Regions from separate parts of the Homo sapiens genome. Here region 1 is linked to region 2. Evidence: fine-mapped expression QTL. A gene starts in region 2. The other region holds a variant in brackets. All regions are shown on one strand. Distances are between the middles of the regions. Region 1 overlaps NINJ2 (ninjurin 2). Region 2 holds the start of NINJ2 (ninjurin 2).

Region 1 (5,376 bases), 58 kb after region 2:
TGGACAATTCGAAAACAATGACCGCTAGCTCCTAGGGAAGATCCAGACCTTGGATACTCATCCTCCATCCATCCACAGCACACCGAGGGCCCAGATGGAACACCAGCTCCTACAAGCGCACATTTCCTTTTAAGCCCCAGCTTCCATCAAATTGGCTTGCACTGGAAAGTCAACGGAACCCCCAGCACAAAGACGGTGGCTGATGGCCAAAGGACTGGAGCCAGGAAAACTATGTGACAGGCAACTTTGCTCCTGCCAAGAATGAGGACGTGATTTCCTATCTCCACCCCGCAGCAGGCCCCCAGCCTCCTCTCATCCCCATTCCCCTTCCACCCCCAGTCCTGTGGGCCACAGGTTTCTGCCTGAAAAAGCAATTTGGAGCTGCTCACACAGGATATCTCCTCCTGACCTACTTCCTGAGTGCTGGGGCAGAATGCTTGCTCTACTGAGAAAGGTGGCATTAGCTCAGCATTCCCCCAGCCAAGCATCATACCGGATCTGACTGTCAATCACTCACTCACAGCCAATGGCCACACCTGAGAAGGGTTTTCTTAATGGCTTTCCTATGTCAACACCTGGGCTGAGTAACCCAACAGGCTCCTGGAGTAGAGCTGAACCTGTTTCTTGGGATATTGCGCTTTCTGTCTTTTTGGTTGTGTGCTTGCTTTTGTAATTTGGTGCAAAGCCACCATTTGCCATGGTCCCAGGAACTCTTTCTGAGATTGTAATTCCGAAGTATTTCTACTCCAGTCGTCATCATCATCATCATCATCATCATCATCCCTTACAGAGTACCTACTATGTAGTCAAATATTTTACCTATTATCCCTAATATGCTCGCCACCCTACCTTGCAAGGTGGATATATCAGGACAGTGCTTCTCAGACTCTGATGTGGCTGTAAGTCACCTGGGAATCCTGCTAAAATGCAGATTCTGGTTGAGTAGATCTGGGGGAGGCCTGAGGTTCTGCATTTCCAGCAAGCTCCCAGGTTCTAATACCTTGAGTAGCAATATATCAGGAGAAATTTTTTGGTTGCAAGTGACTGAAATGCAATGTGAACTAGTTAAATAAGAAGTGGAATTTATTACAAGGGTATCTGGTGTCTCACAAAGCCAAAGGACAGGATTGCAGCCGGGCCTCCGGAAGAGTTGGGGCCGGGGATTCAAATGCCAGGAGGAACCTCTTGGTCTCCTGACTGCTTTCTCCATGCACCCAGTTCAAAGCGTCGTCCTCTCTCCCTCCCTTCTTTTGCTCCACTCTTTCTTCCTTTCCCCTCTGTTCTGCTTAGTGCCAAAGCAACTCGGCCCACAGTCCTGTGGGTTCCTTGTCTTCTTCCTTGATTTTGGTGGCGCACACCTTCCAGTAACTCCCTAAGAAAGTGAGCAAAGGAAGGACAATTTTTGTGGACTAACTTACCTAAACCGTCTTCCCGCAATTGCTAGTGGGTTGAGTATAGAATTGTAGCTTCTAGTGTGGCTGCTGTGACATCGAGTGCCATTTCACTCCTCTGTCCTCTGGAGCTCATGTCTGGAAGTTGTTAGATTCCTTCTGACCTCCAGTTCCAAAAGCTGACAATGATGTGGCTTGGGGTGAGTTGTTCCTCATTCATTATATAGGGCACTTGGTAAGTCCTTTTGACCCCAAAATTGATGTTTTCTGCTCTAGAAAAAACATCTGAATTGTTTATTTAATAATTTTTGCCTTTCTCTTTTCTTTGTTCAGCCCATCTTGAACTCTCAGTGTTAGGATGTTGGATCTTCTGATGTGATCCTTTAGTTTTGTCTTTTGTATCTAATTTTTTATCTCTATCATCTTTTTGTTCTACTTTCTATGAGATTTTATAAACGTTTCTCTATCTTAAGTTGAATTTTTAATTTTTATATTTTTAATTTCATATTTTTAGTTTCCAAGAGTTCTCTTTTCTTTGGTTTCCGAATATTCCTTTTTGAAATAGAATATTGGCTGGGCAAGGTGGCTCATGCCTGTAATCCCAGCACTTTGGGAGGCTGAGGCAGGCAGATGGCTTGAGGCCAGGAGTTCTAGACAAGCCTGGGCAACATCTCTATTAATAATTTTTAAAAATAATAAATAAACTAAAATAAGACACAGTTCTTATTACATTGATGGAATAGCTTCTCTTTTTTCTCTGCAGATGTTATTCTTTTCCTTTTTTGCACTTTTCTTCTGCTCCCTACATTCTCTCTGTCTCTTCTCTTATTTCTTTATTTTGGTCTCCATCTTTCATGTAGGCTTTCTGTGTATATTAAACAGTGAGGCACCAAAAAGCTTACTGGAAGGAGAGCTAAGTTGTGAAGGACAAAGTGGACCTTTTCATTGTACCTTTTGAATCTTTTGAGTTCCGAACCATATTAATATAGAACCCATTCGAAAAACAAACCCCAAAACCCCTCATCTTCCAGGTTATGTGAAGCTTTATCTGCATGGGTAGGGCTTGTTTGCTGGGGAGCTTCAATGCAGAAATGTAGGGTGGGTGTTAGCTTCTTTGCTGAGTGGACTCCAGATGTCAGTGTCTTAATGTTGTCTCTCTAGATTATGTCATCTCTTTTATTTTTTATTTTTGTCTTGCTCTGTCTCTCCGGCTGGAGCGCAGTGGTGCAATCACAGCTCACTGCAGCTTCGAACTCCTGGGCTCAAGCGATCCTCCGGCCTCAGCCTCCCAAATAGCTGGGACTACAGGCACATGCGCTATTCCCAGCCCCA[A/C]GGTAGTCTTTTCCGATAGGAATCATCTGGACTTCTGTCTGGGGATAGGTGTTGGGGAAGGGTATAAGCCTAGTTGCCAGTTTTCAGGAATGAAAGTGGGAGGACAGCTGGGTGTCCCAGTGTTCTGAATGCAGATTTTCAGCAGTTGCCTCAACCCTCTCCCCATGATGCACAGCCGAGCCTGCCAGCCTCTAGAGCAGCACTTTGCAGACTATCTGTGGGGAAGGCGGAGTTTTGAAACTCCCATTCTGTCAGGGACATGTACGTGGTCCTGCTGGGCATGAGTAGGCCGCATCTCACACGGCACATGCCTCACTCTGGGAGTTCAGACATCCAAACTGGCCTCTATCCTTCAGCCAGGAGAACCCACTGATCACACACTGAGTGCTGAGGCAACGTCAAATTTCCGTGAAAATCCTAAACACATATTCTTGCTTCCTGTACTTATCTTACTGGGGCCACTAACAGTTTGTGGACCTAAACCAGTTCCTGGACCACACCGCAAGAGCACTGCTCTGGAAAATAACAAACCTCTGGTCACTTGCCTTGGGGAGGATCTGTCAACAGGCTTTGAGGGGTGGTGAAGGAGTCGGAGGGTTGAACTGCTCTGTAAGTAGACTTTCAGCCCGTCCTCCATCTCAGGTCTGTACCTCGTCCCTACCTCCCTTGCACTTGTGTCCCCACACCCAGTGCCTTCCTGGATTCCTCGTATCCTGTTGGTTCCTTCCTGCAAGCATCAGGCTGTGGCTTTTTTTGCTATTGTTGTTGTTGTTGGGACTGAGTCTCGCTCTGTCGCCCAGGCTGGAGAGCAGTGGCGCCATCTCAGCTCACTGCAGCCTCCGCCTCCCAGGTTCAAGCGATTCTCGTGCCTCAGCCTCCCGAGTAGCTGGGATTACAGGTGCCCACCACCACGCCCGGCTAATTTTTGTATTTTTAGTAGAGACGGGGTTTCACCATGTTGACCAGGCTCGTCTCGAACTCCTGACCTCAAGTGATCCGCCCGCCTCAGCCTCCCAAAGTGCTGGGATTACAGGCGTGAGCCACCGCACCCGGCCAGGCTGTGGCCTCTATTGCTCGGCCAAGACATTCATTTACTACTCCTCGTTCTACTTATTTCCTCTTCCAGTCTATTTTGTCCTCGCAGCTTATACTTTAAAAAATCCCTTTACTGTTGTTAAGATAGCGATACTCCCCAAATTGGTCTACAGATTTAATGCGGTTCCCATCAAAACCCCAGCAGACTTTGCAGAGCTGATCCTAGAACTGTGCGGAATTTCAAGGAACCCAGAATAGCTCAAATGATCTTGAAAAAGAAGGCTGGAGGACTCACGCGTCCCAACAGGAAAACTTACTACAAAGCTACAGTAATCAAGTCAGTGTGATGCTGGCGTAAGGACAGACATATACACCAATTCTATGACGACTCAGCGGGGGAAAGAATGGTCTTTTTGGCCAGGCGCAGTGACTCATGCCTGTAGTCCCAGCACTTTGGGAGGCTGAGGCAGGCAGATCACTTGAGGTCAGGAGTTCGAAACCAGACTGGCCAAGATGGCAAAACCCCGTCTCTATTAAAAATACAAAAATTAGCCAGGTGTGATGGTGCGTGCCTGTAGTCCCAGCTACTCAGGGGGTTGAGGCAGGAGGATCACTTGAACCTGGGAGGCAGAGGTTGCACTGAGCCAAGATTGCACCACTATACTCCAGCCTGGGTGACAGGCTGAGACTCCGTCTCAAAAAAAAAAAGAAAAAGAATAGTCTTTTCAACAAATGGTGCTGGGATAACTGGATGTCCACATGGAAAAGAATAAAGTTGGACTCTTACCTCATACCATGTGCAAAAATTAATTCAAAATGGATCATAGACTTAAATGTAAAAGCTAAAATCTAAAATTCTTAGAACAAAATGTAAGTAAACCGTCATGCAGGAAAGCCTTCTTAGATATGACACCAAAAGCACTGTAACAGAGGAAAAATAAATTGGGCTTCATGAATATTAAAAAAGGTTGCGTTTCAAATGGCACCATCAAGGAAGTGAAAAGAGAATCCAGATAATGGGAGAGATATTTACAAATCATATATCTTATAAGGGACTTGTATACAGAATATATAAAGCACTCTTACAACTTTATAATAAAAAGACAAATAATCAAATTTTAGGGCAAATGAGCTGAATAAACATTTTTCCAAAGAAAATATACAAATGGCCAATAAGCACATGAAAAGATGTTTAACATCATTAGCCAGCAAGAAAATATAAACTCAAAACCGCAAACAGGCCCAGTGTGGTGGCTCATGCTTGAAATCCTAGCACTTTTGGAGGTGGAAGCAGAAGGATTGCTTGAGCCCAGTAGTTCAAGACCAGCCTGGGCAACATAGTGAGATCTCATCTCTACAAAAAAAAAAATTAAAAATTAGCTTGCATGGTGGCCATGTGCCTGTAGCTCTAACTAGTCAAGAGGTTGGGGTGGGAGGATCACTTGAGCTCAGGAGGTCCAGGCTTCAGTTAGCCATGATGGCACCACTGCACTCCAGCCTGGGCAACAGAGTGAGACCCTGTCTCAAAAAATAAAGCAAAAGAAAACCCACAATGAGACAGCACTTTACACTCATTAGGGGACTGTTATTTTCAAAAAAGCAGGTAATAGCAAGTATT
Region 2 (5,376 bases):
GACATGGTCTTGCTTTGTCAACTCAGGCTGGAGTACAGTGTCATGATCATAGCTCACTGCAGCCTTCAGCTCCCAGGCTCAAGCAATCCTCCCACCTCAGCCTCCCAAGTACCTGGGACTACAGGTGCTGCAAGCTGCCACATCTAGCTAAATTAAAAAAAAATTTTTTTTTTGTAGAGACAGGATCTCACTGTGTTTCCCAGGCTGGTCTTGAACCCCTGGGCTCAAGTGACCTCCTGCCTCTACTTCCCACAATGCTGGGATTACAGGTGTGAGCCACCATGTCCAGCCAAAAAGTTCTTCTACAGATGGGATCTCACTATGTTGCTCAAGCTGGTCTTGAACTCCTGGGCTCAAGAGATCCTCCGGCTTTGGCCTCCCGAAGTGCTGGGATCACAGGTATGAGCCATGCTGCCCAGCCAAGACAATATTTTTGACAACCAGGTTTTCTTGAGAGAGAGGATTTTCTAAATTTCTTCATTTCCCTTTGAATTGTTGTCATAGAGTTCTACATCAGATACATCCCAGCCAAACAGGAAAAAAAAAAAAAAAAAGAAGACAAAGCGTACATTTTCTGATTCTAGATTAAGGGGACTATGGGAAGAAGTAATCTCAGCTACTCGGGAGGCTGAGGCAGGAGAATCGTTTGAACCCAGGAGGCAGAAGTTGCAGTGAGCCGAGATGGCGCCACTGCACTCCAGCTTGTGCAACAGAGCGAGACTCCATCTCAAAAAAAAAAAAGTGCTTAGAATAGTGCTTGATACATAGTGGTATTATTATGAGCGGTGGGGTGATAGATATTACTGGTAGACTTTTTAAGGAGTGCTGAGAAGAGTGGGTTCCAGGTCTCATTTCCATTCAGGAATGTGGAAGGAGATCACCTCGCAGACTGCCCTGTGTCAGTTGGAGCAGCCACATCAGAGCAAACTCTGCTGGAAGTGGGGCTGAGCTTGCCTTTCCCCTGCCCTTCGTCAGCAGCCCTCAGTCCCCATGTGCCTAAGGGGGCTCAGGAGCACTGGTCAAGCATCTCACAGGAAAATTTCGAGGGGCTTATCTTAGAGATGTGGGCCACTGAGCGGATACAGTGGGATGGGGGCACATACAAGTCAAAGCCAGGTCTCAGGATGGTCCACATTGCCACGAGCCAAGGTAGCGCAGACAGCAAGGGAGAACACTGGATCTCAAAGGCAGAAAGAGAATCACCCATGAGTGACTCTGGCCTAATATCAGACATCAGCCACCAAGGCCAGCAGAAGACCCAGGAGCAGGACCTGTGTCTCCTCAGCAGTCAGCAATTCGGGCGGGCCCGTGGGCCCAGCAGCTCCAGAACAGAAAGGAGCCGAGATGGAGAGGCCACAGGATAGATGCAAGAACCGTCCCCACCCCGCCCTCCTGTGCACCTAGGTGCCATCTTCTGCAAATCCGAAAGACTGAGCATTGTGTCTAAAGTGGACTGTTTACCATTTAAATGATTAAATCCAACTATGCTTCATAGATTAGACTAAAATATGGCCCCCATCCAATCATCCAACCCTCCCTCGCACCACTGTCCAGAGGGATGGGAACTTATAAAGGCATTTCATAGAACTGAAGAAATCGCCTTTTTTTTTTTTTACATTTGAATGTGGTGAGGGTAAACGTGTTGACTCTGCCTGTCTTCCTCCTGCCCGCACCTCTTCAAGCCCTGAATTGGATTACAGGTTAACACCCTGCCATGCACGTCTACAGACATACCCACACCCACACCTGCACAAGCTTGTGTCTAAACCTTGCTTCAGGAACAAGCCAGAAGAGTTTTGGGCTCTAAGGTAAACAGGAGAGGAAAAAAAAAACTTTCTAAAAAAAGACTCCCTCCTGGTAATTTTATTTTAAAAGTAGGGAGAATACCACTGTTTGCATAAACAAGCTTCGAAGGTACAACTACTCCCTGCTCCCTCTATGGCTAATCAAGGGAGGAGTTGAAGGAATCAAACAATCCGTCAGTAAAAACGTATTGTTCACTCACTTTGCAGAACAAAGCCTATGCTTTGGAGCCTATTAGGTAAACTACAATTTTTTTAAAAACTTTTAGGGATATAGGGAACAAAGCAAAGAACAACGGAAATCCCTCTGCCTCAGTATTGAGACTGTGCTGGAGGTCACTCCACCCGTGGCGACTGGGGACTGGACCCAGCGGTGAAGTCAGATAGCGTTGTCCTCAGGCTGTTTTTCAATTTGCTTGATAAACATGCAGGATTTCTTTGCCAGTCATAAAGCTACTAGCTCAAAGCAGGCTGGGTGACCTCAGATGGCTCCGCTGGGACTGGAAGGTCACTGGAGCCACTGGTGAAAATGATGCTGTCACTACCAACTCAAAAGGTCACCTATCAGTGTGCCATGTGCCACCTCCTGGAGCACACACATGTGCACACACATACACTCACACGTGTGTGCAGGTGCACACCTCCCCCAGAGGCTGCAGCCAAGACGGGCATCCCACATCAGAGGGATGAATGGCAGGTCTGTCCCGCCAGCTGTGTGCTCTCTCCCACCCGAAGAAAGCAGCAGAGACTCAGACGGCGGAGCCTGGAGGAGCCCACGCAGTCTGTTCCCGGCACCCGGTGCGTGTGAAGGGACTTGAGGGCAGCGAGATGGAATCAGCAAGAGAAAACATCGACCTTCAAGTAAGTTCTCTCTGGAAGAGAGCAGAGGGGAGACCGGGAGTAGAGGTGAAGCTGGAAGAACAGAGGATTGATACTTTAGTCACTTGATATTCTCCCTCCCCGTTCTCTTCTTACTCACTCCCTTCTCCAAATGCTCCCTAGGCTTTGTCTCTTTATTTTCTCTTTCTCTCTGTTTCCCTATCTGGTTCTTCACTTGTTTTGAAATATCTGAAAAACAGATTGGTTAACTCCCTTTTGGCCTCTGCTTCCTCTTGTCAGTCAAAGAGCTAATTAGATCCGTATTACCAGAAAATGATTTCACATTCTGAGCAGTGCTTTCCCCAAACCCCAGGACAGTAGAGACTTCTCTTAGAGCTGCCGGGGAGACAGGAAATATATGAGTTTTGAGGCTAGGAAGAGAGGCAGCTGGCCAACTTTGCATTTTACAGGTTGGAAAAAACTTGAGCCGTTTCTCGGCTGTCTTCACAAAGCTCTACTGTGTAGGACAGAAAGCGTCTCATTTGGACAGTGCAAGGAAAGGAAATCAGTCTAATCTCCTAGGAAGAGGCAGAGATGTGTGTCCCTCTGTAGCTGGGATGGGCTTGGAAGGCATCAGAGGTTCCAGTCCACTGCTGGAGGGGAAAGGGTGGGATGTTACGGTGAGAGGAGAGCCAGATTGCTGGGAGCTGCACTCTGTGACTCCTTGCCAATGGATAGAATAGAACGAACCCTTCTATGACCACTGCTGAGGCTGTGTAACATTGCAGAGAATCAAACAAAGTGTGGAAAAGGACTTTTGAGATCAAGAATTTCTGATCCCTGAACCTGGTCCTCGAACAAAATCTTAAGCAGCCACCCAATATACACTTCGGATTAAAGAAGAGCTGTTTTGTTGAAGCAGAGTATGTGCACGCGTCTCTCTCTCTCTCTCTCTCTCTCGTTCTCTGTGTGTGTTTTGGGCAGGGTGGCGTGAGTCTGGCAGAGTCTCTGTCCTTGGCCCCTCCGCCCTTGAGACACCACCAGGGAACTGTAGGACTGCTTGGTGTGCTGTGTCAAAACCATTCACCTAGTACAACTGCATACCCAGTGCTGTTTTCCTGGATTGGCAGCCAGCCCCGAGAGCGGTCCCACCGCAAGGCTTGCTTGTCCCTCTGTCTGGAACCTTCTTTCCCTGGCTTATCTCCTGGCTGGCCCTTCCTAGTACATTCAGGTCTCAGCTCAAATGTTACTTCCCCCAGGAGCCCTCCCCTGACCAACCTCTTCACAGGATGCCTCCTCCCCAATTTGTCTTTATCATTTGTTTAATTTCTTTCATAGCACTGCTCACCACCTAAAGTTACACTGCTTATTTATTTAGTATGTATTGCCTGTCACTCTCACTAGGACACAAGATCTCTGAGGGCAGGGCCTCTCCTGTTTTATTCACTGCTGCAGCCCGAGTGCATGAGGCAACTCTTGGTACACGGTCATTGCTTTAGAAAACATTTGTTAAATGAATGAGTTGAGGAAGCCATGAGTTGGAGAGGCTCTGAGATAGGAATAAGGTCACCTAATTGGCCCAAGACCTCCAGTCCATGTCTTCTGTCCCTAGTATGTGTTTTCTTCTTACTTCTAGTTCTTGCCTCTATAAGATCCTTGGTTGTTAAGGAAATTGTGTTGCTGCTTATTTTCATTCTCAGAAGAGCAAGTTTCTTATGTGCTGATGGGTTGAACGATCCAGAGTTACAGGCTAAGGACTCTGCATCTGAACCAGAGGTTCAGAAGGAAAGAGGTGGTGGGAGGAAGGAGAAGGAAATGACTGGCTAGGCTGGATGAATGTCTCTCTCTAGCAGGTAACTGAGGTGTTAGTGTACCTTTCTCTTCATTTGTCATTCACTCTCTTCTAATATGCTATTTAATTCTTGTATCTTACATTTTCCTTTGCTCAGAAGGTTATCCATTATTTTCTACAATTTATTGTCCACCTTTGGCTGGGCACGGTGGCCTACGCCTGTAATCCTAGCATTTTGGAGGCTGAGGCAGGAGGATCACTTGAGCTCAAGAGCTAGAGATCAGCCTGGGCAACATAGCAAGACCCTATCTCTATTAAAAATTTAAAAGTAATTAGCTAGGCATGGTGGCATGCACCTGTAGTCCCCACTACTCGGGAGGCTGAGGTGGGAGGATTGTTTGAAGCCAGGAGTTCAAGGTTGCAGTGAGCTACAATCATGCCATTGCACTCCAGCCTGGGCGGCAGAGCCAGACCCTATCTCTAAAAACAAAACAATAACACTCTTTAGTTAAAACAATGTTTCCCCAAAATGTGGTACAATTATCACCAATGGGTGGTAAAGGTACATCAATGGCTGACAGCTTTTTATTATAATGTTTATTTTTACAGTTTTTTTTGAGATGGAGTCTCACTCTGTCGCCTAGGGTGGAGTGTAGTGGCAAAATCTCAGCTCACTGCAACCTCCGCCTCCTGGGTTCAAGTGATTCTCCTGCCTCAGCTTCCCAAGTAGCTGGGATTATAGGCATGTACCACCACACTTGGCTAATTTTCATATTTTTAGTAGAGACAGGGTTTCATCATATTGGCCAGGCTAGTCTTGCACTCCTGACCTCAAATGATCCACAAGCCTCGGCCTCCCAAAGTGCTGGGATTACAGGTGTGAGCCACCATAGCTGGCCATCTTTATAGTTTCAGTATTCATTAGAAAGAGCATAACAGGGCCGGGCTAGGTGGCTCACGCCT

Evidence for each region. PIP is the estimated chance that this variant, and not a neighbour inherited with it, causes the effect. A credible set is the group of variants that fine-mapping cannot tell apart.
Region 1: its variant is the best candidate, but not a certain one, in a credible set for the expression of NINJ2 in monocytes (TOPMed, PIP 0.68).

The regions. Positions count from the first base shown.
Region 1 is chr12:602,758-608,133 of GRCh38, reverse strand. All of the region lies in intron 1 of NINJ2 (ninjurin 2), which reads left to right. Among named protein-coding and RNA genes, the nearest start is that of NINJ2-AS1, 25 kb to the left of the region's middle. The variant A/C (reference allele first, on the strand shown) is at 2,724.
Region 2 is chr12:660,615-665,990 of GRCh38, reverse strand. NINJ2 (ninjurin 2) reads left to right here and starts at 2,546. Exons shown (of 4, transcript NM_016533.6): 1 at 2,546-2,663. The coding sequence starts at 2,631.